Linked DNA regions of Homo sapiens: regions 1 and 3 are each linked to region 2. Evidence: fine-mapped expression QTL. A gene starts in region 2. Each other region holds a variant in brackets. All regions are shown on one strand. Distances are between the middles of the regions.

What was found. PIP is the estimated chance that this variant, and not a neighbour inherited with it, causes the effect.
Region 1: its variant is fine-mapped to the expression of MMP24OS in lymphoblastoid cells (GEUVADIS, PIP 0.93).
Region 3: its variant is fine-mapped to the expression of MMP24OS in spleen (GTEx, PIP 0.98).

Annotation. Positions count from the first base shown.
Region 1 is chr20:35,248,097-35,258,986 of GRCh38, forward strand. All of the region lies in intron 2 of MMP24-AS1-EDEM2 (MMP24-AS1-EDEM2 readthrough), which reads right to left. It overlaps MMP24 (matrix metallopeptidase 24), which reads left to right. Exons shown (of 9, transcript NM_006690.4): 3 at 3,809-3,925; 4 at 6,354-6,658. Among named protein-coding and RNA genes, the nearest start is that of MMP24-AS1-EDEM2, 25 kb to the right of the region's middle. The variant G/A (reference allele first, on the strand shown) is at 5,138.
Region 2 is chr20:35,276,059-35,283,185 of GRCh38, forward strand. MMP24OS (MMP24 opposite strand) reads right to left here and starts at 2,064. Exons shown (of 2, transcript NM_001355003.2): 1 at 1,951-2,064; 2 at 294-1,874. The coding sequence starts at 1,871. The coding sequence ends at 1,656. MMP24-AS1-EDEM2 (MMP24-AS1-EDEM2 readthrough) reads right to left here and starts at 2,064. Exons shown (of 15, transcript NM_001355008.2): 1 at 1,988-2,064. MMP24 (matrix metallopeptidase 24) reads left to right here. Exons shown (of 9, transcript NM_006690.4): 9 at 1-940. It overlaps EIF6 (eukaryotic translation initiation factor 6), which reads right to left. Exons shown (of 7, transcript NM_002212.4): 4 at 4,596-4,771; 5 at 3,884-4,060; 6 at 3,508-3,689; 7 at 2,860-3,148. The coding sequence ends at 3,139. RefSeq lists enhancers at 1-607, 1,194-1,293, 1,414-1,583 and silencers at 1,714-1,933, 2,024-2,243.
Region 3 is chr20:35,205,874-35,216,763 of GRCh38, forward strand. The region is part of intron 4 of MMP24-AS1-EDEM2 (MMP24-AS1-EDEM2 readthrough); the gene reads right to left. It also overlaps a transcript of PROCR not described here. Among named protein-coding and RNA genes, the nearest start is that of MMP24, 15 kb to the right of the region's middle. RefSeq lists an enhancer at 10,187-10,686. The variant T/G (reference allele first, on the strand shown) is at 5,604.

The DNA of each region.
Region 1 (10,890 bases), 26 kb before region 2:
GGAACCTGAGGCAGGTGGAAGATGCTAGCAGGGCTGGGTGAGGATCCAAGGGAGTTGGTGGGGGGAGGAACAGGAAATGCACCCAGTTGTGGATCAAGGATCAATTTGACGTAAGTCACTCCTGGACAGAATCATCTCTCTGGGTCTCAGTGTGTTCATTTGCAAAGGAGGGTGTTGGATTATGGCTCTAAATTCTAGATTCCCCCCCCCTTTTTTTTTTTTTTGATGAGATGAAGTCTCGATCTGTCACCCAGGCTGGAGGGCAGTGGCGTGATCTCGGTTCACTGCAACCACTGCCTCCAGGGTTCAAGCGATTCTCCTGCCTCAGCCTCCCAAGTAGCTAAGATTACAGGCATGTACCACCATGCTGGCTAATTTTTTTTGTATTTTTAGTAGAGATGGGGTTTCACCATGTTGGCCAGGCTGGTCTCGAACTCCTGACCTCAGGTGATCGGCCCACCTCGGCCTCCCAGAGTGCTAGGATTACAGGCGTGAGCCACCGTGCCCAGCCTAGATTCCATTATTTTAAGCATCTAAGCTTTTAAAACTTGGCAAGTCTGGGGTTTTAGGATCCTAAAATCCTGTGTGAACATTTCCCATTCCTAGGATTCTCTGATTATGAGTGTGAACTTCTTCTCCTGTGCTGTTGTGAATACAGTGGACTCCTTGGCCCCGTGGTCTCCAGAGTGGGCTGGTTAAAGAGAGCCCAGCCGCCTTTCAAAGCGGAGGTTATTTTGAGGGCTTTGCACAGGCCTCATGGCAGTGCATCCTGGGGCAGAAGCACTGGTGTCTCTGCTGCGGCACCACCTGGCCTTGGGTTTTACTCTGTTCCAAAAAGCCCCAGGCCTGTTGGATGGCGCTCAGAGAGTGGCAGGTGGATGGTGAAAGGAGGAGGCAGCGGGAATGATCCGAGGGAAAAGGATGGCATTTCCCACTTGCAGTTCTGCCCACACCTCCTTGTAGAAGGCGGGGGAGTTGTGGTCTGGAAGCAGGGGAAGGAGGAAGCCAGTTGCACTTATTAATCCAAGACCTGAGATGGGGAGTGTTCAGGGTAGAATTTAGAGCCCCAAGATGCAGCTCCAGCTCTGTGACCTTGGGCAATGGCTGCCTTTCTCTGAGCCTGTTTCCTCCCCTAGGTGCCTTTGGGTCTAACTCAGTCAGAGGTGGTTCTTGGTTCCCTTCCCAGGGACTGTTAATTAAAGGAAGCTAGATTAGCCATTTAAAGTCCTATGTTTGAGTGTCGCCTTGGGAAATGTCACACATTTATTCATTCACTCATTCATTTGGTCAACAACATAGTTCCTCTAGCTCAGCTTTGTGCTAAGCACTGACAGGAAAAAATAAAAGCTCCAGGCTTTGTTAAATTGCATTAATGAATAGTTCATTTTTTCATTCAACTAAGTTCCAGTCCTGCCTTGCTGATTTCTGTGTTTTGCAAGGTACTGGATTTATCTGTGGATTGTTTCCCTCATCTGTGAAATGGGAATAATAATTTCTTTTTTTTTTTTTTGAGACGGAGTCTCGCTCTGTCGCCCAGGTTGGAGTGCAGTGGCGGGATCTCGGCTCACTGCAAGCTCCACCTCCTGGGTTCAAGCCATTCTCCTGCCTCAGCCTCCCAAGTAGCTGGGACTACAGGGGCCCGCCACCACGCCCGGCTAATTTTTTTTTTTTATTTTTTAGTACAGACGGGGTTTCACCATGTTAGCCAGGATGGTCTCGATCTCCTGACCTCGTGATCCGCCCGCCTCGGCCTCCCAAAGTGCTGGGATTACAGGTGTGAGCCACCGTGCCTGGCCCGGGAATAATAATTTCTGTTACCTCACAGTGTTGTTTTGAGAATCAAACTTTTTTATTTTATTTATTTATTTATCTATTTATTGAGACAAGGTCTGACTCCCCTCACCCAAGTGTACTGGTGTGATCTTGGCTCACTGTAGCCTCAACTTTCCAAGCTCAGGTGATCCTCCCACCTCAGCCTCCCTAGTAGCTGGGACTACAGGCACATGCCACCATGCCTGGCTAATTTTTTGTATCTTTAGTAGAGATAGGGTTTTGCCATGTTGCCCAGGCTGGTCACAATCTTCTAGGCTCAAGCAATCTCCTGCCTCAGCTTCCCAAAGTGCTAGGATTATAGGTGTTAGCTACTGCACCTGGCCAAGAATTAAACATTTTAAAAGAATGTGCTGGGCGCAGTGGCTCATGTCTGTAGTCCCAGCACTTTGGGAGGCCAAGGTGGGCAGATCACCTGAGGCTAGGAGTTCAAGACCAGCTTGGCCAACATAGTGAAACCCTGTCTGTACTAAAAGTACAAAAATTAGCCAAGCGTGGTGGTGCGCGCCTGTAATCCCAGCTACTACTCAGGAGGTTGAGGCAGGAGAATTGCTTGAACTTGGGAGGCAGAGGTTGCAGTGAGCTGAGATGGCACCACTACACTCCAGCCTGGGCAACAGAGCGAGACTCTGTCTCAAAAAAAAAAAAAGAAAGAAAGAAAGAGAAATACCTGAAACTGGGTAATTTATAAAGAAAAGAGGTTTAGTTGGCTCAGGGTTCCACAGGCTTTACAGGAAGCATGGCTGGGGACGCCTCAGGAAACTTTCAATCGTAGTAGAAGGCAAAGGGGAAACAAGCACATCATCATATGGCAGGAGCAGGGGGAAGAGTGAGAAGGGGGAGGTGCTCCACACCATTAAACAACCAGATCTCATGAGAACTCACTCACTATCAGCAGAACAGCAAGGGGGAAGTCTGCCTGCATGGCCCAATCACCTCCCACCAGGCCCCGCCTCCAACAGAGACACAAATCAAAACATATCACCTGGTAACAAACAGATATCAGGATTTACGTAATTTCAGGCACTGGGCTACCTTCTTTTGAGGATACAATGATGAATAGGACATAGTTCCTGTCCTCAATTTACCATTTATTAGAGGAAATAAACCAATAAATTTTAAATCACAACACAATATAATAAGTGCTGCAGAGAATTATGTTCCACATCCCACAGTTGTTAAGCCACTTCTTTTTTTTTTTTTTTTCCTGAAACGGCATTTCACTCTTCTTGCCCAGGCTGGAGCACAATGGCACAATCTTGGTTCACTGCAACCTCCGCCTCACGGGTTCAAGCAAGTCCCCTGCCTCGGCCTGCTGAGTAGCTGGGATTACAAGTGTGAACCACTGCAGCTGGCTAATTTTTTTTTTTGTATTTTTAGTACAGATGGGGTTTCACCGTGTTGGCCAGGCTGGTCTCGAACTCCTGACCTCAGATAATCCACCCGCCTCAGCCTCCCAAAGTGCTGGGATTACAGGCGTGAGCCACCGTGCCCAGCTGAAGAGTTTGAATTTTATTCTCAGTGTTTGGGGAAGTCGCTGGAGGCTTTTAACCAGGGCATCCTGTAATCTCATTGCATTTACAGAGCATTTTCACATGTACTTCCTCCTTGAAGACGCACCTCCACCTAAGACCAAGAACTAGAGTTCTCATGTTGCAGAGGAGGAAACTGAGGTTCATATTGGTTCAGCCACTTGCCTGGGGGTCCTATGACTAGTGGTGGAGCTGGAGCTTATCAAGCCCATATATTCTGATTCTCAGTCTTTATACAGCTATTTCCTCATCTATGATTGTGAGTGCATGAATTAATGAATCAATCAATCATGTTCTTGTTGGGGTCCATCCAAGCCAGGGTCCCAGAGTGTAGCTTGAGGATGCACATTGCTTTCCAGACTGGAGCTGGGGAATAGGCAGTCCCTTCCTAAAGTGTTCAGTGACCACAGTGCATATGCGTGTGTGTGTGTCCTCTCTCTGCCCAGGTGGATGAAGAAACCCCGATGTGGTGTCCCTGATCACCCCCACTTAAGCCGTAGGCGGAGAAACAAGCGCTATGCCCTGACTGGACAGAAGTGGAGGCAAAAACACATCACCTACAGGTGCTTCGACTCTCCCTCTTCCTCCCTGCCTTTGGCTCCACCCTCACTCTGTTTTTCCTGGCCTGAGTTTCAAAGGCTCACAATGTAGGGGGGCCTGGGGATCAGGCTTACAACATAGGCCAAGAGCCAGGCATGTGGGCATTGGCACTAGGTGCTGAGAGCCCATAACCTTGTCCTCCTTGTGGCTTCCACAGGATGCTGTGACTCCAACCTCAGGTTTATTTGGTCCTCTGGGGGCTCTTAGTTGTCTTCTGTTTAGATGCCTATAGTTTTTAGGTTACAGGAAGTGGGGTATGAATGGTTTGGTAACTTTCAGCTGTGAAAAAGAATCGTGGCTTGCAGTGAGCTATATCATGCCACTGCACTCCAGCCTGCGTGACAGAGTGAGACTCTGTCTCCAAAACAAAACAAATGAAACAAAAACCACAAAACAAAACAAACAAAACCATGGCTTAATTCAGTCTCCTTATCACTGCCTGCCAAACCCCATTCCCTCTGATCTGGATCCTCCCACCCCAAAATCCACCTGATGGACTTCACCTGAGATTCCCAACGCAGAGTTCCAGTTGTTTCTTAAGGAGTATAAAGAACTGGGACCTGAATCATAATAGTGTCATCTTTGACTGTCTGGAGGAACCAAGGGCAGAGCAGGATCCATCTCCAAGTCAGATCAGTGGCCCAAGAACTAGATGATGGAGCCCATCACAGCAGACTGAAGCACCGGAGTGAGGCTGGGGCAAGGGCCAGGCATTGAGCAGGCTCAGGTGGGGGTGGGGCAAGGGGCAGGCACTGGACAGGCTCAGGTGGGGCTGGGGCAAGGGCCAGGCATGGGCAGGCTCAGGTGGGGCTGGGGCAAGGGCCAGGCATGGGCAGGCTCAGGTGGGGCTGGGGCAAGGGCCCGGCATGGGCAGGCTCAGGTGGGGCTGGGGCAAGGGCCAGGCATGGGCAGGCTCAGGTGGGGCTGGGGCAAGGGCCAGGCATGGGCAGGCTCAGGTGGGGCTGGGGCAAGGGCCAGGCATGGGCAGGCTCAGGTGGGGCTGGGGCAAGGGCCAGGCATGGGCAGGCTCAGGTGGGGCTGGGGCAAGGGCCAGGCATGGGCAGGCTCGGGTGGGTGCTGGCTGGCACTTCTCAAGGCTCTGCTGTCATCTCAGGTGGATCCCTTTGGTGCAGAGGCAAGATCTAAGACAGAGATCCTCAAGAGTTGAACTAAGG[G/A]CTCCCCTGCTGACAAGCACTCCCTACAGAACGGGACTTTTTTTTTTTTTTTTTTTTTTTCAGAAATCTGACAAGAGAAGGAAAGTTAGGGTTGAACTAAGGGCTCTTCTGCTGATAAGCTGTCCCTTCAGAACGGGATTTTTTTTTTCCAGAAATCTGACAAGAGAAGGAAACTTAAGAATCTAGGTTAGAAACTGAATAGACTCTTGGGTCTCTTGAAGGGGTAGAGTGGATCAAGAGAAAGAAGCACTGGGTTCTAACCCAACTCTGAGTAACTTCTATCACTAGACTTCTCTGGGCTTCAGTTTCCTTACGTGTGGAGTAGGTAGAATAATCCATGCCCCAGAGGGTCACAGGGCAGGGAACCCACAGGTAGTAACGTTGTTTTGTGAAGAACCAATGCAATATGAACACAGCGACGCTAAACAGCTAAACCTATAATGGATTAAATCAGATACCGGCCAGCTTCTAGGCAGACAAGCCAAAGATTGGTACCAAAGATTTTTTAAAGAGACTTTTCACTTAAACTCCTCTCTATTATTTGAATATTTTTATAACTTTTATAAATGAACATATTTCGTATTAGGGAAAAAAACTTAAAATTCAGAAAATGCTATCTACCAATTTCCTTTGGGTTTTTTTTTTTTTTTTTTGAGACAGAGTCTCACTCTTGTTACCCAGGCTGGAGTGCAGTGGTGCAATCTTGGCTCACTGCAACCTCTGCCTCCGGGTTCAAGCAATTATCCTGCTTCAGCCTCCCGAGTAGCTGGGATTACAGACTCACACCACCACGCCTGGCTAATTTTTGTACTTTTAGTAGAGACAGGGTTTCACCATGTTGGTCAGGCTGGTCTCGAACTCCTGACCTCATGTGGTCCGCCAGCCTCGGCCTCCCAAAGTGCTGGGATTACAGGCGTGAACCGCTGCGCCCAGCCCCAATTTACTTTTCTCAACAAACTAGAGTGGAATCCTTTATTCGACACAGCTTTGCTGGAGATCAAATGGAAAACACTGAGTAAAGCAAAGCCATCTGACTGAGGCAGGGTGGGGATCCAGAGCTCTGTTACTCAGCCTCTTCTTCAATCCCTGAGGCAGCTAAGCAGAATTCTAGGGTTCAAAATCAGATCACTGAGCCACATTGTCTCAGGTATCTATTTTAGCTCTGCTAGTCTCTGACTCTCTGATCTTGCCTAATGATCCTCCCCTCTCTCACCAGCATTCACAACTATACCCCAAAAGTGGGTGAGCTAGACACGCGGAAAGCTATTCGCCAGGCTTTCGATGTGTGGCAGAAGGTGACCCCACTGACCTTTGAAGAGGTGCCATACCATGAGATCAAAAGTGACCGGAAGGAGGCAGACATCATGATCTTTTTTGCTTCTGGTTTCCATGGCGACAGCTCCCCATTTGATGGAGAAGGGGGATTCCTGGCCCATGCCTACTTCCCTGGCCCAGGGATTGGAGGAGACACCCACTTTGACTCCGATGAGCCATGGACGCTAGGAAATGCCAACCATGACGGTAAGGCCATGAGGGGACAGGGGTCAGTCTTGGGCTGCTCAGTTGTTGGGAAAGAACTTGGAGGACATCCTAGATGAGTTTCCTGCTTTCTAGAGCCTCTTGTCCAAGAACTAAGACCGTAAGAGGGTGGGAACTGTGATTTCTGATAATATTCAACGTTCAATCCACCAGGGCCAGGGCCATGGAGATGAGTCAGATCACTTAGAAGATAGTCCGGTTGGCAGGAGAAAAGTAAGGTTAGGCCAGTAAGAAGATAAAGTAATGGACCAGAGGCTGAAGAAAAAGTTTAAAAGGGGCCAGGCACAATGGCTCACGCCTGTAATCCCAGTACTTTGGGAGGCCAAGGCAGGTGGATCACCTGAGGTCAGGAGTTCAAGACCAGCCTGGCCAACATGGTGAAACCCTGTCTCCACTAAAAATACAAAAATTATCTGGGCGTGGTGGCGGGTGCCTGTAATCCCAGCTACTCAGGAGGCTGAGGCATGAGAATCGCTTGAACCCAGAAGGCAGAGGTTGCAGTGAGCCGAGATCGCACCATTGTACTCCAGCCCAGGCGACAAGAGTGAAACTCCATCTCAAAAAAAAAAAAAGTTAAAAGGCATTAAAGCTGAAAGAGGGGTCTGAAAGTAGTAGGCTCTGGCCTGAATGATGAGGGCTCCAAAAGCCATCTTATGAATGACACGACTGGCTCTCTCCTTTGTCACCCTCACAGGTGAGTAGCAGGCCCTGAAATTATTCTGGCATCCTTGGATAATTTACCCTGCACCACTATGGTTCAATGAATATTTATGGAGGCAGAGTCAATACCGTGCAGCAATAGTAATGATACCCTGCAGGTTGCCAAAAAATTCATCATCAATATTTACTCACAAGGCACATGCTTAGTATGTAGGCAAGTGTACATTATTACACCCATTTTTAAGATGAAGAGTTGGGGCTCAACTGGCATAGCTGAAAGGTGACAATGCAGGTATCAAGCCCTGGTTCAACTACTGGCTATGTGATACCCTCGGTCTCCTCGTCTGCAAAGTGAGGGGCTGGATTAGGTGATCGCTAAGGGCCCTTCCAACTCTAATGAACATGATACAAAGTCTTGCAAAGACCAGGGGGAGCTGAATGTTTGAAAAAAATGGCATGATCTCTGTCCCCTGGCAGTCCAGAGTCAGTCTAGCAGGGGAGTTAGGTGTGCACGTAAGTAACCCTGTCATAGACAGACTCTACCCAAGGCTGTAGCAGAGGCACAAAGAAATATGTAGGAGTTTGGAGGAAAGAGGGACAGAGGAGTGTGGCTTTTGGATTATAAGAGATGATAATTAGTGGGTATGCTGGTGTTCTGAGGCCCGTGCCAAGTGCTTGCCACCCATTATGTGTGGAAACTATTATATCTATTAATACATTATAATGCATAATTAAATTTATGTATTAAGCAATATATAATGTTAAATTATTATTATAGGTAAATATTGCTATCTTCATTTTACAGATAGGTAAACTGAGATATAGAGAAACATTAAGTCACCTACCTAAGGTCCCACAGTTGGTGAATGGTGAAATAAGGCTTTGAATCTGGGCATTATGGCCCTGGAGCCCATGCTGTCAGCCATCATGCTAAGCTTCCATGGTTCTCAAACTGTAGGGCACAGCAGAATCACCTGGGAACCATTTTTAAGAATTCAGATTCCAGGCCAGGCACGGTGGATCACACCTGTAATCCCAGCACTTTGGGAGGCCGAGGCAGGTGGATCACCTGAGGTCGGGAGTTCAAGACCAGCCTGGCCAACATGGTGAAACCCATCTCTACGAAAAACACAAAAATTAGCCAGGCATGTTGGCAGGTGCCTGTAATCCTAGCTACTCTGGAGGCTGAGGCAGGAGAATCCCTTGAACCCGGGAGGCGGAGGTTACAGTGAGCCGAGATCATGCCACTGCACTCCAGCCTGGGCAACAGAGATTCCGTCTCAAAAAAAAAAAAAAAAAAAAAAAAAAGACTGCAGATTCCAGGACCCTAACCTCTTGTCATTCTGATTCTCTGGGTCCGGGGTAGGGCCTGGGAATCTGCAAGTGGTCTAATACATTCCTGGGGCCTTCTGATGCAGGTGTTCCATCACCATGAGAAACGCTATCTTAATACCTAGAGTTTTCCTACCTGGCCTGATCATAAGAACCAATGGGGGTTCTTGTTATAAACGGGGATTCCCAGGCCCTTCCCACAGAAATCCTGACTCTTGAGCTCAAACAAGCTTGGGAAACACCGAGCATCCTTTTTTCCTGCCCTGCGGCTGCTCCAGGCTGAGAGCAGACTCTCAAAGCTGGTTTGGTGTCTATAGTTGGGGCCATGTTTGGTGTCTATAGTTGGGGATCACCTCCTTGAGAACACTTTATATCATCGCATGGATTAGGGATTGGCAGCTCTGGGGTTATCTGTCAAAGGCTGGACCAGGAGGTGGTTTGGCCAAGGCTCAGCCTAGGCAAAGTCATGAACCTGTTAAATTGTTCTTTGTCCTCTTCTTTCTTCAGATTTTTGTCCTCTTTCCTATTGAACTCCGTTTCCTTTGCCCTGGTATCTCTCCCGTATGTCCTGCATGTATTCCTGGCTGAGTACCTGTTCTTTATCTCATTCTTATTTTTGGATCGGTGTCAACGAATGGCTGTCTGTGCTAACAGATAAGATGTGAGGAGAAGAGAACTAATATTTTTGAGGCCCTGTTATGTGCCAGGCACTGTTAGCTGATAGGGTTTTAGTTATATTCCTGATAGAGGCAAATGAATGTCCAAAGAGTTGTCCAGAGGCAACGGGAAGACACTCCCACTCCTCTGCCCTCCCCTTCTGCCCAGCACTGGGGGTGTGCACTTCCCACACCTGCTCCTTGCTTTTGCAGAACTTGTTGGACCCAGCCCCCAAATCCCAAGAGCCGGTGGTATGTGTGGGAAGGACCGGGGACCTGTGGATGGGCACCATCCCAGCACCTCTCCCATCTGTCCAACCCTAACCTTCATGAAAGACTGCCAATTCTGATAGAAATTCCAAGATTGCTAATGTTTTCTTTGGATAAGAATCAGGACTTTGCTCTGCTCTGGAAAACCAAGCAGGAACTGTCCAGATGCAGCTCAGGACCACAGCAATCGACTCCTGAACTGGAATGCAGTGAAGGCAGGTTTTGGGTGAGAGGCAAGGAACCAAAATTTATTGAGCATCCATATATTATCTCGTTTAATTTCCACATAGACTCAGCAAAGGGGTGGAGTTTCCTGGGAACTTTTTGAACTTATTAGCTTACTTCTTTTTTCTAAACTCTCATTATGGAAAATTTCAAACTCACAAAAGTAGGAAGAATGCTTCTATGATCTCCCAGATACCCACCACCTGCCTCAGCAATTATCAACGTTGTGGCATTCCTATTTATCTACCTTTTTTTGGCTGATGTATTTTAAAGAAAATCTCAGGCATTCTAACATTTCACCTTTAAATACTTTAGTATATACCTCTAACAGATAAAGGCTAATTTTTAACATAAGCACACAATCATTATCAAGCCCAACAAAATTAACAATAATTTTTTAAAATCTAATACCCAGTTCGAGTTCACTTTCCCAAAGTACCTTGGAAATGTCTTTTACAGTTGTTTGCTTGAATCAGGATCCAAACAAGATCCACACACACATGGCTGACATGTCTCTTAAAGCCCTTTTTATTTAAAACACCCCCGTCCTACACACACGTTTCCCTCCATATATTTGTTGAAGAAACTGGGTCAGGTGTCCCGAGTATAATCATTTGGCGTGACTAGAATCAAGTTTACTTTTAATACGTCTCTCTTGCCCATAATTCCTGAATGTTGTTCATTAGATTTACAGGCTGACTAGATTCAAGTTCAATTTTTTTGGCAAGAATACTTCCTAGGTGGTGCTGGTACTTCCTATTCACCATATTAGCAAATACATATGATGCAGACTGTCCCACTTTTAGTGATGTTGAGGTCGAGCATTTGCTTCAGGTTGTGTCAGCCTGACCCAACCATTATACAATTCACCTGGAGAACTTAAAAAAAAAAAACAACAAAAAAGATTGCCTACGTCCCAAACCAAACCTCCTGAATCAGAATATCTTCCCCACCTCCTCCATGTGTTTAAAAGGCTCCCCGGGCCAGGTGCGATGGGAGCACTGGAGTAATCCCAGCACTTTGGGAGGCCGAGGGGGGGCAGATCACCTGAGGTCAGGAGTTCGAGACCAG
Region 2 (7,127 bases):
CAGCGTGCTGGCCGGGTCTCGGATGCCACCCCTGCTCACTGAGCCTGCATGGGCCTTGCCCCCGACCCTGTGGTCTCTGGGATTGGGGTCGGCTTACCCTGTAGCACAGACAGGGACTCCTGCTGCCCTGGGAGCTGTCTCAAGCAAAATCTCTTGTCCCAGAGGTGCCCATGTGGGTCCGCTGTGTCCCCTGTCATCATCCTTGTTTTTTCTCATTTTGGCCAAGGGCAGGCTCCCTGGGACAGGCAGGGAACAACTGCGGAGATATTAGTGATTCATAGGTTTGTACAGTGTTTTATACTTTGCAAAGCACTTTATTAGCTCACACCTGTCCACTCACATGAAACTCGTGTTAGGCCCTGGGAGGCCGACGGTAACTCTCACCGTGCCCTCAGATGAAGCACAGAGAGGTTGTTACTTGCCCGGGCCATCCAGTGGGCTGGCTGGGTCTTGTGTCCCCATCTGTGGACCCCTCTAGGGTCTGAGATGAGATGAGAAGTGTCTCCTGTATCCACCTCTTCCTGGCCTCCCTTCCCCCACTTCCTGGTCCCTGTCCACTCCTCAGGTTGGTGCTCTCACTTCTTGAAAGCTCTAGGCACCCCCGCCTCCCGCCAGGCTCCCCATTGGCTCCTGGCAGGCCAGCTGAGAATGAACAGGAGATGGAGGCAGGCAGCCCAGGCTGCAGAGGTGAGGGATGTGGGGCCAGGCCCAGAGGGCTCAGCCTAGAGGCTTCCAATCTCAGATTCTCCTGCCTGTGGTCATCTGTTTGTCCATCACCCCAGGACAGGGCAGACAGAGGGGCAAAGCACTGGGGGCCCCAGAGCCTAGCTTCCCCTCAGCCTGGGGGACATCACAGCATTTCAGTGTCAGTCACATTTTAAACTGATCAGCCTTTGTATAATGTTTTTTAAATCATTTCTAAATAAAACAGAAATACAGAGTGTGTCATTTCCCTGGGATGAGGGAACAAAGATCAGGTTCCAAGAGTAACCTTAGGACGCTCTGGGAAGAGAACCGGGTCCTTTGGGGTGTCTGGGAGCTGCCCACCCATCTCCTCTGCCAGACCGGCGGTCAGATAGCCTCCCTCTACAACAGGCTGGCCCTGGGGGCCCAGGGTTATTGGGGTTCCAGGAACACAGCCTGATGATGCCTCCTTACGATCCAGGATGGAGAGCAGCCCCCCCAGGAGTATGGGGAGGGTCACTGTGGCACGGGCTTCTCCATGACCTGGGACATGACCTGGGACACATAGTCAAGAGCACGGTTATCAGCAATACAGATATTAATAAAAGGCAGACGAAGTCAGGAGGTCAGCAACTTTGCGGGCTTACCAGGAGGCCTGTCCTGCCTCTGGAAGCCAGCGACAGAGAGGGATGCCCCCGACCCAGCCAGCCGGAGAAAGGGATGGGGTGGTCACGAAGGTCTGAGCTGGGTCTGGGTGTAGGCTGGGAAGCAGGCTGGGGTGTAGACTGCGAAGGCGGCCCTGCCGGGACTTCTTTCCAGTCCCCGGCGACCTCTTCGAATTCTCTGCTATCTCTGGGGAGCCTCGGGTGGGAGGGGGTGTAAGAGACGCAGGGACGTGGGGAGAGGAGACAAGGCAGGCAAGAACCACAGGGGACGGCGGACAGACGGGCGACATCCTGCGGAGGACGCCGTCAGTACCAGGAAGTGCAGGCGATGAGGAAGCGCACGTCGTCCAGCGGCCCCCACGGGCTGGGCTCGGGCTGGGGCTGGGGCTGGGGCTGGGGCTGGGGCTGGGGCGGATGCCGGGGCTGTTCCGGGCCCTCCGGCGCCGCAGGCTGGGGCTGGGGCTGGGGCTGGGTTTGCGCAGGCTCCGGGGCGCCGCGGCCGCCGCTTAGCTGAGCCCCCATGGTCTGCAAGAAGAGAAGCCCTTTAAGGTCTGGGTCGCCGGGACACCCCGCTAGGGCCCCGCCCCGGCTCTGCCCTCACCTCTCGCAGCCAGACCCGCGGGTCTCCCGGAACCCACCTCGGCGTCGGGAGGAGCTGGCGCCGTGACGCCACCACCGCGTACCGACCTCACCCTCCGTGCGTTGGAGCGGAAAGAAGGGACTCGACCCTGTGCTTCGGGGCGGGGCTCCGCGACCGTCCCCCGCCAATCCCGCCCCAGCGCCTCAAGGCCCCGCCCCGCGCAAGGGGACGGAATGCACCCCAACAGCCTCCAAGACGCCCAGGCCAGGAGGACGCTGGGAACCCGCTGCCCCGCCCCACGCCCACCCAGGAAAAGACCTGCAACCTCCATCCACCTTAGTCAAAGAATGCCCCGAAGCCAGATGCCCCAGAGCTCTCACAGGGGACTTGCCCAGCTCAGGGGAAAATCGGAACGGACTCTCTGCCTTTCAAGGCCAGAGAAGACCGGCGCAGAAGTCGGGTGAAAACTGTGAGAACTAGACCGGGCGCCGTGGCTCACGCCTGTAATCCCAACACTTTGGGAGGCCGAGGCGGTGGGTCGCTTGAGTTCAGGAGTATAAACCAGCCTGGGCAACACAGTGACTTCGTTTCTACAAAAAAATAAACGAGGCGAGAGGATCGCTTGAGCCCAACAGGTCAAGGCTACAGTGAGCCATCCTTGCGTCACAACACTCCAGCCTGGGTGACAGAGGGAGACACTGCCTCAAAAAGAAAAAAGAAAAAAGGAGAACTGTAGTGGAGAGTGTTTCTTGCCCCAGGATGAAGCCTCACATCCTGATGGTAGAGGAGAAGGGAATGGCGTGTGTGGAGGTGGTGAACTGGGTTGGGTGTGTGTTGTGTTCATCCCACCCTATCTTCCCAGAATGCTGGAACAACTGGAGAGTGCAGGGATTGTACACAGGCTGAGGGCCCCAAACATCACATTCAGAATGGCCCGGAGGGAACTGCACTTTAATGGGGTGGCACAGGACAGCAGAACCCTCAGCCAGCAGCCACAGGGCCTGCCAGCCAGCACAACAGAGCAGGTTTTTGCAGTAATGATAGATCCAGGCGATAAGCACAGGTGGAAAAGGGTTGGGTGCCCAGCCCCTCAGTCCCAGTGAGCTCTCTGCCACCTCCCTGCCAGCATCCGGTACAGATTGGGCGGAATGTGGAGAAGGTTGGCCACAGTCCAGAGCCAGGAGCCCATGGAACAACTTGGAAGGTGACTCAGGTGAGGCTGAAGAGAAAGGAAAGCGCACGGTCAGTAGCTGTTTCACAGAGCCCACCTCACTCTCAAGTGAGGTGCCTGCCTCAGCCCTCATCCCGGGACCAGCTCTGACAAGCTGCTCAAGCAGCTACTGCTCTAGTATCCTAGCCCTGAAAAACCACAAAGATGAGGATTAGCAGATGCTCAAGAAATATTTTTTGAATATGCTGGCTCTTATCTGCTCAGCAGTGTACAGATATGCTCTCACACTCGAGAAGCTACCAGAACAAACTGGTAGGCTCCCATTCTAGATGACATCTTTTCCCCATACTCTCAAAATGCAAGTTAACCCCCAACCCTGAGCAGAAGAAAGGAGAGGCCCCAGGTACCTGTCAATGAGGGAATCCCGCATGCTGGTGGCAATGGTGCTAGGCTGGGCTTCATTCAGCTTGAAGACACTCTCCACCACTGACAGCTCTGTGCTGGTTGTGTCCAGGCCACAGAAGGCACACCAGTCATTCACCACCATCCCAGCAGCAATCACCTCACTGCCTCGGTTCACAGTCCCCGCCTGCCAAGGGATGGGCTCAATGTGAGTCACGGCACCAAATTCTCTCCCTCCTCAATGAAGACTCTCCCCAAACCCTGCTCCTCCCTGACCTGCAGCCCCAGTCCCAAACTGTGGCAGGTAATGACCCAGACTCCCAAACACTAGGCAAAAGGATCTGCCTCGGGAGACGGGGTTCAGAGGACAGGAATGCTTACCACAAGGGGGACTTGAAGAAGAGAGGACAGCTCATCCTGGTCTTCAATTGAAGTCTTGGGATGCACCAGCCCTCCCTGATTGCTGAAGACACAGTAGCTTCCTACTAGCACCTGGTCGGCCACTGTCTGTCTGAAGACTTCCACCTTGAGCACATCTGCCAGAATTTCTTCTGTCTCCTGTCAATCAAAGATATTGTGTTCAGGGCTCAGAACTTACAGCCCCAGAACCAAGGTTCTCCATGCCCAGAAGCATCCAGGCCTTGGCTCCCTGAGCCCCTCATTTCTCCTCTGTACCTCATATGAAAGCCTCACCCAGAGAAAGGAGGAAGTACAGCTTAGAGCAGAGTCAAGGGCAGCTGTGAAGCCCCTAATATTCATGCATGCCCTGAACAGCTGGAGGCTGGTCTCAATATCACTTCTTTCCCCTCTCACCCACAGTCAAAAGTTCAACAGTCAATCACCTATCCTGGCCCAGGATGCAGGACTGGATGGTTCAATCTCCCCAATCATGAAGGATTCATACCCTCCCCAGCTTCTTTCTGACACTTGATAAGGCCTCTGTTATCACTATTCCAATGAGTACCTGAAACTCAAGAGCCCATATAGAAAAACCACAGGAGAGACCCCTAATTGCTGCCTGTTGGGAAAGAACAGTGGCTAACCACTGACTAGGATGGCCCTGTGACTCTTGGGTCAAGTTGGGCTGCCTCACCCTGTCCAAGTCTGGGTGGACCAAGGCCACGTAGTCATTGCAGGTGGTGACATTGCCCAAGGCTGAGAGCCGCTCCTCCACCCGCCTAATCTGCACTGTGTCTGGGAGGCTGTTGCGAATGTGTTGCAGCTCCTGGTCGGTGGTATTGTTGGGTACCAGGAGACCGTGCCTGTTCCCTGGAGAAACCCAAATTAGAGGGTGAATACACAAGATGCCTGCTGAGCCCTAGGGGCTGAGGATACCACTCAGCCCAGCCCAATCAGCTTTCCCAGGAAAGCTTTAGGCCCAGAGCCCAGCCCTCCAACCCACTGATCTGGAAAACACCCAGGGCAGGCCAGAGACCACCCAGGAATCCCAATAAATCCTGCCTACTTCACCATCACCAACTGGGAGGGAAGCTGAGCTCTTGGCATTAGCTGTATATTTTGCTACTTAAAAACTGAGCTGCCGGGCGTGTTGGCTCACGCCTGTAATCCCAGCACTTTGGGAGGCTGAGGTGGGCAGATCACAAGGTCAGGAGATCGAGATCGAGATCATCCTGGCTAACACGGTGAAACCCCGTCTCTACTAAAAATACAAAAAATTAGCCAGGCGTGGTGGCGGGCGCCTGTAGTCCCAGCTACTCGGGAGGCTGAGGCAGGAGAATGGCGTGAACCCGGGAGGCGGAGCTTGCAGTGAGCCGAGATCGCGCCACTGCACTCCAACCTGGGTGACAGAGCGAAACTCCGTCTCCAAAAAAAAAAAACAAAAAAACAAAAAAAACTGAGCTAACACTACACACATAGCAGAATGGCTAGATTATTATTTTTTAAGGCAGAGTCTCACTCTGTCACCCAGGCTGGAGCGCAGTGGTGCGATCTCAGCTCACTGCAACTTCTGCATCCTGGGTTCAGGTGATTCTCCTGCTTCGGCCTCCTGAGTAGCTGGAATTACAAGTGCGTGCCACCACACCTGGCTAACTTTTTGTGATTTTGTAGAGATGGGGTCTCACTATGTTGGCCAGGCTGGTCTCGAACTCCTAACCTCAGGTGATCCGCCCACCTCGACCTCCCAAAGTGCTACGATTACAGGTGTGAGCCACTGCCCCCAGCCAGAATGACTAAAATTTTTACAAGTCATCAATTCCAAGTGTTGGCAAAGATATATGGAGCAACTGAACTCTCATACTGAGACAGGAGTGTAAGTTGGTCAATCACTTTAGATAATTATCTGGCATCATCTGCAACTACTACTAAATAGTCACATAACCTGTGACTCTGCCATGCCACTCTTAGGTATCATATACCCAGTAGAAATATGTACATGTGTTCACTAAAAAAACATAGCAGCACTATTACTTTTTTTTTTTTTTTTGAGACGGAGTCTTGTTCTGTTGCCCAGGCTGGAGTGCAGTGGCACAATCTCGGCTCACTGCAAGTTCTACCTCCCCGGTTCACACCATTCTCCTGCCTCAACCTCCCAAGTAGCTGGGACTACAGGCACCCGCCACCACACCTGGCTAATTTTTTTGTATTTTTAGTAGACACGGGGTTTCACCGTGTTAACCAGGATGGTCTCGATCTCCCGACCTCGTGATCCGCCCGCCTCGGCCTCCCAGAGTGCTGGGATTACAGGCGTGAGCCACCATGCCCGGCCAGCAGCACTATTCCTAACAGACCAAAGTGAAAACTGCCCAAATGCACTGTCGATGGAATGGATGAATACGTTGTGATATACTTACACAAAACACACCATACAGCAACAAGAATGAACAATCTACAAATACACGCCAATCAATTTCTGAATTCCAGGTCACTCCCATCATAAAATACACAAGGACTAAGCTAAAATCTCCCTTGTTGTCAGAACTTGCTTCAAGTCCTAAGGGCATGGTTAGAGATCAGAGTATTTTAACTGAATAGGAAAATACTTTGAGGTCACTAGGCTTAAGTTTTTGTTGTTGTTGTTTTTTGTTTTTTGTTTTTTTTTGAGACACAGTTTCACTCTTATTGCCCAGGCTGAAATGCAATGGCACAATCTCAGCTCACCGCAGGGTGAGCTCCACCTCCAGGGTTCAAGCAATTCTCCCGCCTCAGCCTCCCAAGTAGCTGGGATTATAGGTATGCGCCACCACACCCGGCTAATTTCTGTATTTTTAGTAGAGACGGGGTTTCTCCATGTTGGTCAGGTTAGTCTCGAACTGCTGACCTCAGGTGATCCACCTGCCTCGACCTCCCAAGCAGGCTTAAGATTTTTAAAAATTAAAGTAAAAGTAAAAAAATAAAATAAACAGACTTCTAAAAGTGACCTCAATGAGCAGAACTAAGAAACAATGGGCAGCAGTAATGGAAGACAGATCCAGCTTAATGAAAGGACCGGCCGGGCGCAGTGGCTCACGCCTGTAATCCCAGCACTTTGGGAGGCCGAGGTGGGAGGATCACCTGAGGTCAGGAGTTCAAGACCAGCCTGGCCAACATGGTGAAACTCCATCTCTACTAAAAATACAAAAAAATTAGCCGGGTGTGGCGGGATGCGCCTGTAATCCCAGCTACT
Region 3 (10,890 bases), 68 kb before region 2:
TATATATGTATATATGTGTATGACCTCCGGTGATCCCCCCCCCAACCTCGGCCTCCCAAAGTGCTGGGATTACAGGTGTGAGCCACTGCACTTGACCGCAAATCACATTTCTAACAAAGGACTTGAATCCAGAATTTATTTTTTAACATTTTTAAAAAATTTTATTTTATTTTATTTTTGGTAGAGACAGGATTTTTGTATGTTGCCCAGGCTGGTCTCAAACTTCTGACCTCAAGTGATCCTCCTGCTCAGCCTCCCAAAGCACTAGGACTACAGGCATGAGCCACTGTGCCTGGCCTAGAATTTATAAAGAACCCTCAGTAGGGCGCAGTGCCTCATGCCTGTAATCCCAGCACTTTGGGAGGCTGAGGCAGGCGGATCACGAGGTCAGGAGTTCAAGACCAGCCTGGCCAACATAGTGAAACCTCGTCTCTACTAAAAATACAAAAAAATTAGCCAGGCATGGTGGCAGGCACCTGTAATCCCAGCTACTCAGGAGAATGAGGCAGGACAATCACTTGAACCCGGGAGGCAGAGGTTGCAGTAAGCCAAGATGGCGTCACTGCAGTCCAGCCTGGGCAACAGTGTGAGACTCTATCTCAAAAAAAAAAAAAAAAAAAAAAACTCTCAAAACTCAGAAATAAGAAAACAAACAATTTTTTAAAAAGGCAAAAGTTTTGAACAGGCACCTCACCAGAGAAGATACATGGATGGCAAATAAATATTTGAAAATATGCTCAACATCATTTGTTGGTAGGGAATTGCAAATTAAAACCACAGTAAGGTATGTCTATACACCTATTGAAATTGAAAAAAATCCCTGACAATACCAATTGTTGGTGAGAAGGCGGAACAACTGCCACTCTCATAAATTACTGGTGGGAAAACAAAATGATACAGCCCCTCTAGGTTTCTTATAAAGTTAAACACACACTTACCATAGGCTCCAACAATCCCTCCTAGAAATTAGCCCAAGTAAAATGAAAATTTATGTTCATACCAAAACCTGTACGTGAATGTTTACAGAAGCTTTATTCATAATTGCCAAAACTAGAAACAACCTAAATATTCCTCAACTGGGAAGTGGAGTAACAAACTGTGGTACATCCATACAATACACTACTACTCAGCAATGAAAAGGAATTGACTACTGATACACTCAACAACATGGATGAATCTTAAATCCATTATGCCAAGTGAAAGAAGCCAAATTCAAAATACAACATATTGTATGGTTCCATTTTATATGACAGTCTGGAAAAGAAAAAACTATAGGAATAGAGAACATATCAGTGTTGCCAGGGCTTAAGGGTAGGGAAGGCTTTGACTACAAAGGGGTAACAAAAGGGAATTTGGGAAGGTGATTAACTGTTTTATTTTTTTGTTTGTGTGTGGTGGTGTTTACATAATTCTTTGCATTTGTCAAAACTCACAGAACTCTACACCAAAATGTAAATTTTACTGAATGTAAATTACAATTAAATTATATGTATGCAAATCTATTATGTGTATGTTTGTGTATATATATATATATATATATACACATATGAATATTTTTAAAAGCTTTTTCCCCTCATATTACTATCAAGTCATATCTCACAGATTTTGTATTTGTACAATTATTCTTTCTTGAGCCTGAAATTAGTTAGGACTGTTTTGTTTTGTTTTTTTCTTGAGATGGAGTCTTACTCTGTTGCCCAGGCTGGAGTACAGTGGTATGATCTCGGCTCACTGCAACCTCTGCCTCCCAAGTTCAAGTGATTCTCTGGCCTCAGCCTCCCGAGTAGCTGAGACTACAGGCGCTCACCACCACACCTGGCTAATTTTCATATTTTTAGTAGAGACGGGGTTTCTCCATGTTGGTCAGGCTGGTCTCGAACTCCTGACCTCAGGTGATCTGCCTGCCTTGGCCTCCCAAAGTGCTGGGATTACAGGTGTGAGCCACCACGCCCGGTCAAGTTAGGACTGTCTTCATCTCTGTTAACCTTCCATTTCCTCTCCTTCCACAAAACCTAAACTTTATTATTATTTGAAACATAATTTTTGAGTAAGTTATTCCGTCTCAAGAAGGTCCAATTCGTGTTATTGAGAATGGTAAAATAATACACTACCTGCCCTGGGCACTTTAGTGAGAATCCATTTATTGGGTTAACTAGCAGTGACTGTGGATGGCAGTGAGCAGGCCTGGGAGTGGCCAGGACATAGGACAGATGTGCTTTGATGGGAGAGAAGGGAAGGAAAAGCCGGCAGCACAGCGATGGGAAACTAGAGGCCAGAGGTAGAGGTGGAGGGCAATGATCAGGGAGCAGAGATGACAGCATGCCAAGGACATCCTGTGCTGACTTCACAGGCTGGCTCTGGGCATAGGCCAGTCTCTTCCTGGAGCTTTCATTTTCTCTCTTCGGAATCTGTCAACTCTCTACTGCAATCTGTTCCACAGTCGTATAGCCAAAATCCTCTTGCTCTGTGTCTGTTTATTCAACAAATATTTATCTTAACTGACTCTAATCACATTGTCTCCTGTTTGTCCTGCAGTGAAGCCCTTTTACATCTGCTTATCTCTTTTGATCCAAGGGAAGGAGACTTAACCCTGACTTCCAGAGAAGGAAATAGTCTCAGAAAGGTTAAGTCATTTATCTGAAGTTGCCCTTTTAATACTGAGTACTGGACTCTCTCAGTATCCGCGTACTCTGCTGCCCCCTACCGTGAACATAGCAATAGGTTTTAAATCACAAAAACACACAGCAGAACACTACACAACACTGGAAAGACTACGACACTATAAATAGTGCTTACATTTGTTCATTTAGCAAATATTCAGCTGGACGTGGTGGCTCACGCCTGTAATCCCAGCACTTTGGGAGGCCGAGGCAGGTGGATCACTTGAGGCCAGGAGTTCAAGACCAGCCTGGCCAACATGGTGAAACCCCACCTCTAAAAATACTAAAATTAGCCGGGCATGGTGGCACGCACCTGTAATACCAGCTACTCGGGAGGCTGAGGCAGGAGAATTGCTTGAATCCAGGAGGCGGAGGCTGTAGTGAGCCGAGATCACACCACTGCACTCCAGCCTGGGTGATACAGCAAGACTCCATCCCCAAAAAATAAATAAACAAATATTAATTGAGAGCCTACTATATGCCAGAAATAAGCAGGTATTGTCCTTGTGTTCATGGAGCTTATGGTGTAGAGGGGGAGACAGAATTACACAAAATAATTACTTAATTACAGTTTGAATAAATACTATGAAGTACAAGGTGCTATATGAGGGTATAGAATAAGGGTATGTAGCCTGGTCTGGAGGCTTAGGGAAATCTTACATGAAGTAGAATTCATAGGAATAAATTATTGGTTGGCTATGGGGGAGGTTAAAGAGACATCAAGAATGCCTTCCAGGTCTCTGGCATGAACAACTGGGCAGATAGAGCACTGTTACTAAGCAGGGGAAGCCTAGAGGAGGAAGACATTATGAATGGAAAGAATATGAACTTGGCTTTGGCTTTTTGCAGTTCGGGAATCCCACGAGACATTAAGGTATAGATGTGGAATAAGCAATCAGATTCAGGAGTTTGGGAGCAAGGTCTATGCTAGAAATAGAAAGTTGGGAGTTGTTGGGATACAGATTATATTTGAAACTGTGGTCATGGATGACATTTCTTAGAAAATAATAGAAAGAGTAGAAGGCTTATAACTTCCCTGAGAAACTCCAGAATTTAAAAGGTCAACTGGAAGAGATGGAGCTAGCAAAAACTTAGGACAAGGGGCCAAGGAGGGGAAAATCAGGAATGTGCAATGATGCCAAAGTCAGGGGAAGTGTATTTCAAAAAGAAGACTGGTCAACCATGGTGGTAATTACAAAGAAATCAAGTGCAATGACTTTCTTGGTCTACGATGATTTTTTTGGTCTGCCTAGTGAAACAGATTCAGTTTCAGAGGACTAGAGGTGGAGAAGACTAGGCCACTACCTCTTAGAAAACCTCCTAAAGGCCACCATAGCCTATGGTCTTGAACCAGTGGTCTTCATAGTCTTTTGCTCACATACCACTTAAAATAATTTTGATAAATAATGTGAGCTGGGCACAGCGGCTCAAGCCTGTAATCCAAATGTTTTGGGAGGCTGAGTCTGGAGGATCACTGGACCCCAGGAGTTTGAGACCAACCTGGGCAACATAGAGAAACTCCATCTCTACAAAAATTAAAAAATTAGCCAGGTGTGGTGGTGTGTGTCTGTAGTCCTAGCTATTTGGGAGGCTGAGGTGGGAGAATTGCTTGAGCCCAGGAGTTCAAGGCTGCAGTGAGCTATAATCATGCCACTATACTTCTACCTGGGCAACAGAGCAAGACCCTATCTCTAAGAAAATAAATAAATAAAATTTTTAAAAAACATTAGGCCAAGTGCAGTGACTCATACCTGTAATATCAACACTTTGGGAGGCCAAGATGGGAGAACTGTTTGAGCTTAGGAATTGAGGACCAGCCTGGGCAATATAGTATGACCTCATCTCTATGAAAAATTTTTAAAAATTAGGTGGGTGTGGTGGCACACGCCTGTAGTCTCAGCTACTTGGGAGGCTGAGGCGGGAGGATCACTTGAACTCAGGAGATTGAGGCTGCAGTAAGCTACGGTTGCGCCACTGCACTCCAGCCTGGGCAACAGAGCGAGACCCTGTCTCAAAACAAACAAACAAAAATATAGACATATTTTTAAAAGATAATAGAAGGCTATTTTCTGAATCTTGTATTTTTAACTGTCCCCAGTTCTGAACTTTTTTTTAATTGCCCCGTGCAATGTATCATTCAGGGTGGGTCAGATATATGCCTTTCTTTCTTTTCTTTTTTCCATTTTTTTTTTTTTCTCTGAGATGGAGTCTCACTCTTGCCCAGGCTAGAGAGCAATGGTGTGATCTCGGCTCACTGCAACCTCCACCTCCAGGGTTCAAGCGATTCTCCTGCCTCAGCCTCCCCAGTAGCTGCGATTACTGGCACGTGCCACTGTGCCTGACTAATTTTTGTATTTTTAGTAGAGACAGGGTTTCACCATGTTGGCCAGGCTGGTCTTGAAGTCCTGACCTCAGGTGATCCACTCACCTCTGCCTCCCAAAGTGCTGGGATTACAGGCGTGAGCCACCATGCCTGGCCTTTCTTATGAAGACTAGCAGAACTACAATTATGAAGAAAAAGTCGGCTTGGAGCCTCAACCCCAGGAACTTTCTCAGGTGGAGTACATCTGGAAGTTGAGGATCTGGAAATGAATTTCCTTAAATATATCCATGCATGAGTACCGCTTACCAAGCCTTCATTTACTTTACGGCTATTGCATACCCCATTTGAAAACCAGTGTTGCAAAGGACTGGGGGCAATCTGAAACTACTGGGTTCCTGGAACCTGGCACTGATTGATGGGGCCAGTGGGCCCTAATGAGATTGCACCTCCATTTTAAAAGCGTGAAAGGTATAAGGAGATTCAGAGATAGGTGTAAATGGCTTGCGGGAGCCTCCAAAATTTTCAGGTCCAGGTACCTCCCACCCCTTCAAGGGACTGTCTGATACTATTCTATGGCTCCTGGAATGAAGAACCAGTCATCAGGACCTGCTGGCCTCTAT[T/G]AAATTAAGAGTCCAGTCAGATTTAACAACCTGAAGATGAGGTGTAACTGTGAAGCAATATATGGCTGATTTTTTAACACACCCATCCAAATACATCCACTCCAGCTGATTCATTCTCTCAACTCCCATGTGCTAGGTAATGTATGAGGTGCCAGAGTTACCCAAAAAACAAACAAAGCACAATCCATAGGCCAAGTCCTGCAGAAACTCTAGGAGAGAAACTTTTAAAGAAATAATTATAAAAACACTGTGATCGGCTGGGCGTGGTGGCTCACGCCTGTAATATCAGCACTTTGGAAGGCTGAGGCAGGAGGATCACCCGAGATCAGGAGTTTGAGACCAGCCTGGCCAACATGGTGAAACACCATCTCTACTAAAAATATAAAAAAATTAGCTGGGTGTGGTGGCTCACAACTGTAATCCCAGCTACTTGGGAGACTGAGAGCAGGAGAATTGCTTGAACCTAGGAGGCAGAGGTTGTAGTGAGCCAAGATCATGCCACTGCACTCCAGCCTGGGTTACAAGAGTGAAACTCTGTCTCAAGAAAAAAAAAAACAAACACTGTGATAAAGAGTTAATAAAACTATGTGCAAGAGCTAGGGGAGTACTGAAGAAAGAGTGATTTGAGTAAGAACTTTGTAAGACTTTGAGTAAGAACTTTTTAAGACTTTGGGAAAACTTCCCAAAGGAGGTCACATTAGAGTTATTTATTGGCAGGCGTGTAGTACATCATAGAGAAAAAGAGATGGCAGTGGAAGGATGTTCCAGGCAGAGGATGCAGCATGTCACATGGGCAGCCAGTGTCCAAGTGACACTCAAGGGGCAAGACCTGCTTCATGGACTTGTGACCTCTGTAGTCACACAGGGCCCCCCTCTTAGAAGGGCCCTCACGCTTGTTTTAATGTTCTGCTGTCATCATTTTGAAATTCTTATTTTTTTTTTAACAAGGAGACTTGCATTTTCATTTTTGCACTGGGCCCTGCAAATTACGTAGCAGGTCCTGCAAGAGGGCAAGATGAAGGCAGGGAGACCTGCTGGGAAGTTATTACTGCGGTCCAAGTAAGAGATAATGAAGGGGCTAAATCAAGGTCTTGTCGTAACAGTAATACACAGCCACACCATTTTCAACTTCTTCCCAGTGTATTCCTCAGTTTAGATGTAGCAATTTCCCCAACTGGAAAGTACTTAGGTTGATTTTGGTGTTTTGTAATTACAAAGAATGAGGCAATTGAATAATTTGCTACAAATAATTTTGTGTTTGCACCTATGCAAGGATATCTATCTAGGATAAATTCTCAGAATTAGAATTGATGGGTCAAAGGTATGCTCATTTTCAAGGTTGATAGGCATTGCCAGTTGGTGACCTGAAGAGAGTAAACCAATTTGTATCTCTTCCAACAGTATGGAGGAGTATCTGTTTTATCATGCCCTCTTTAACACTCTGTAGTATCCAACCTTTTGGTATTTGCAGTCTGATAATGTTAAGAAAGCAGTGGCTGATTGTCTTAATTTGCCTTTCTTTAATTACAAACATGGTTGGTCATTTAAAAAATTATTATAGGAGTCTGTTCAGGCCAGGCACAGTGGCTCACGCCCATAATCCCAGCACTTTGGGAGGCCGAGGCAGATGGATCACTTGAGGCCAAGAGTTCCAGATCAGCCTGGCCAACACGGCAAAACCGCGTCTCTACAAAAAACACAAAAAAATTAGTCAGGTATGGTGGCATGTGCCTGTAGTCCCAGCTACTTGGGAGGCTGAGACATGAGAATCGCTTGAACCAAGGAAGCAGAGGTTGCAGTGAGTTAAGATCGTGCCACTGCACTCCATCCTGGGTAACGGAGCGAGACTGTCTCAAAAAAAAAAAAGAGTCCATTTATATTTCTGTTTGCATGAAGCCCATTTAGTCCTTCGCCATTATTGAATTGGGTCATAGGTCTTTTTCTTATTGGTTTATAACAGCTGTTTTACGTTAAAAAAATAATAATAAATATTTTACCTAGTTTATAGTTTGTTGCTTTATTTCTGCTTTTTTTTTGGCCATGCAGATGAAGGCCTGAATTTTTGAAACCTAAGTGAACTGTTACTGCTTTCACTGTATACCAGTATTTTGCAATATAAGCCCTCTTTTCAGGGAGTGGCCTTTAGAGACTATTACACTTATTTTTTTAGAAGCTCAGCTTGTTCATTTGGAGAACATACAATATTAAAGGGAAAAAATGCTCAGCTTGTACTTATTTTTTGAAGAGATAATATATCCACATGATTAAAAAGTCAAAAGATACAAAAAGGTATACAGTGAGAAAAATCTCCTTCCAGCCAGGCATGGTGGCTCCCACCTGTAATCCCAGCACTTTTGGGAGGCCAAGGCAGGCGGATCACATGAGGCCAGGAGTTCGAGACCAGCCTGCCCAACATGGTGAAACACTGTCTCTACTAAAAATATAAAAAATAGCTGGGCTTTGTGGTGTTTGCCTGTAGTTCTAGCTACTTCGGAGGCTGAGGCAAGAGAATTGCTCCAACCCAGGAGGCAGAGGTTTCGGTGAGCCGAGACTGTGCCACTGCACTCCAGCCTGGGTAACAGAGCGTGACTCCATCTCAAAAAAATAAAATAAAATAATTAAAAAAAATTAAAAAATAAAAATAAAAATTGCCTTCCCACCCTGTCCTCAAACCACTTAAGCTTCCCTCCAGGAAGTAAGCACTATTATCAGTTCCTTGGGTATCTGTCCCTATTTTATGTGTAAATGAGCAAGTGCATGCACACACATGTATTCTTTTTTCCGATTATTACACAAATAGTAGCCTACAATATCCAGGATTCTGCACCTTTGCCTTTTTTTTACCACTTAACATTACATTTTGGAAATAATGTCCTAATTATTCATAAATTCGTAAGTACTTCCTCATTTTAAAAAATGGCTGCATTGGGCCGGGCGCGGTGGCTCACGCCTGTAATCCCAGCACTTTGGGAGTCCAAGGCGGGTGGATCACAAGGTCAGGAGATCGAGACCATCCTGGCTATCACGGTGAAACCCTGCCTCTACTAAAAAAATACAAAAAAATTAGCTAGGCGTGGTGGTGGGCGCCTGTAATCCCAGCTACTCGGGAGGCTGAGGCAGGAGAATTGCTTGAACCCAGGAGGTGGAGGTTGCAGTGAGCCGAGATCGCGCCACTGCACTCCAGCCTGGGCGACAGAGCGAAACTCCATCTCAAAAAAAAAAAAAAAAAATTACAAAAGGCTGCATAGTGTCCCATTGTATGCATTGGTTTGAATATGCTTTTAAGGGAGAAACCTGAGTAAGAAATACTCTCAAGTCATTTGGGGCTGGACATTGAGACTGAGTCGGGGGATTGGACTGGGACCTTCTCTAGATCCTGAACAATCAGACCTTTTCCTTCCTCCAGGCCTTTACCTCCCATTTTCTTTTTCTTTTTTTTTTTTTTTTTGAGATGGAGTCTCACTCTGTAGCCCAGGCTGAAGTGCAGTGGCACCATCTCAGCTCACTGCAACCTCTGTCTCCTGGGTTCAAGAGATTCTCCTGCCTCGGCCTCCTGAGTAGCTGGGATTACAGGCACGCGCCACCAAGCCAGGCTAATTTTTTTGTGTTTTTAGTAGAAACGGGGTTTCACCCATGTTGGTCAGGCTGGTCTCAAACTCCTGACCTCAAGTGATCCACCCGCCTCAGCCTCCCAAAGGTGCTGGGATTACGGGCGTGAGCCACAGCGCCCGGCCTTTTACCCTCCATTTTCTGCCAATTAAAACTTCACACAGTCTTCCATTGCTTGTAACTTTTGAACACGTGTGTGGTAATGTTCTGTGTATATTGCATATAAAACTATTAGCTTTTAAAATATTACCAGTTTATATAGACTCATCTCAAATGCTACTTCCTTTTGGAAACCTTCCTTGATCTCCCTGATATCCCCAGCCAGAGTGACCTCACTCCCCTCTGAAATCCTATAGAATGGTGTAATGTTTTGTGGTTATTTGTCACGCCTTTTATGTGCACAAGTCTTATCTTTTTTTTTTTTTTAACCTGAAGACGGCCTCACTTGCCCCAGTACCTTCCACAGAGTGGCTTCTGAGTAATGTTTACAGAATTTTTGAGGTAATTAATGAATGAACAAAGGCACCAAGGGTTAAGGACATGAATTTAGTGTCAGACACTTGGGTTCTACTCCTGGTTTTGCTGTTTTTTAGGTGTGTCGTGGGGTAGGTCACTTCTCTCACCCTTTCCTTAGAATCCACTTCACAGGACAGTGGTGAGGATTAAGTGATTTGATGTAGGTAAATTGCTTTTCATTGACTGTTAGCTGCTGAAATAGGAATTCAGAGGAAGGAGGAGAGAGGTCAAGGAGACTTCCTAAGCTGGACTGTGCTCTCCAGCCACCCTCTCATTTATATTTCCTTTCAGATCTCTACTAAGAATGTCACTCTGGCCGGGCGCAGTGGCTCACTCCTGTAATCCCAGCACTTTGGGAGGCCGAGGCAGGAGGATCACTTGAGGTTGGGAGTTCGAGACCAGCATGACCAACATGGAAAAACCCCGTCTCTACTAAAAATACAAAATTAGCCAGGCGTGGTGGTGCATGTCTGTAATCCCAGCTACTCGGGAGGCTGAGGCAGGAGAATCACTTGAACCCGGGAGGCAGGGGTTGCGGTGAGCCGAGATCACACCATTGCACTCCAGCCTGGGCTACAAGAGCGAAACTCTGTCTCAAATAAATAAATAAATAAAACAAAATAAAAAATAAAGAATGTCACTCTTCCTTGTTCCTGCATTTTCTTTTTATGTCTTTATCTTTTGGGTAAATTTGCCTGGCTTCAGGGCGAAGGCCCTCCAGCACCAAGAGCTGCCTAGTACTGCAGATTCTTACGACCACTCAAATCTTTCTTTCCTTTATAAGAAACAAGCAACTCTACCCTATGGTTGAGCCAATGTGTCAGTTTCTTCCTATCCAAATGGATGGCATCCTGACATCTGCAGTGAGAGGCCAATGCAATTTGGTGGGGGTAGGGGCAAGGGTGGGGGAGTTTTGCAGAGCATAAAGAGCACAGTATCTTGGATCTTCAGCAGCTTGAGTTCAGTTCTTAACTTTTCTTGCCTCATTACAACAGTGTCACAACCCATTTTCCTCATACATTGAGAACTGCTGCAGTCAGGCACGGTGACTGTTACATGGCTGTTATATTGGCCATGGATGGCCAACATAGTGAGACCTCCATTTTAAAAAAAAAATTAAAATTAGTCAGGCATGATGACACGTACCCGTAGTCATAGCTAC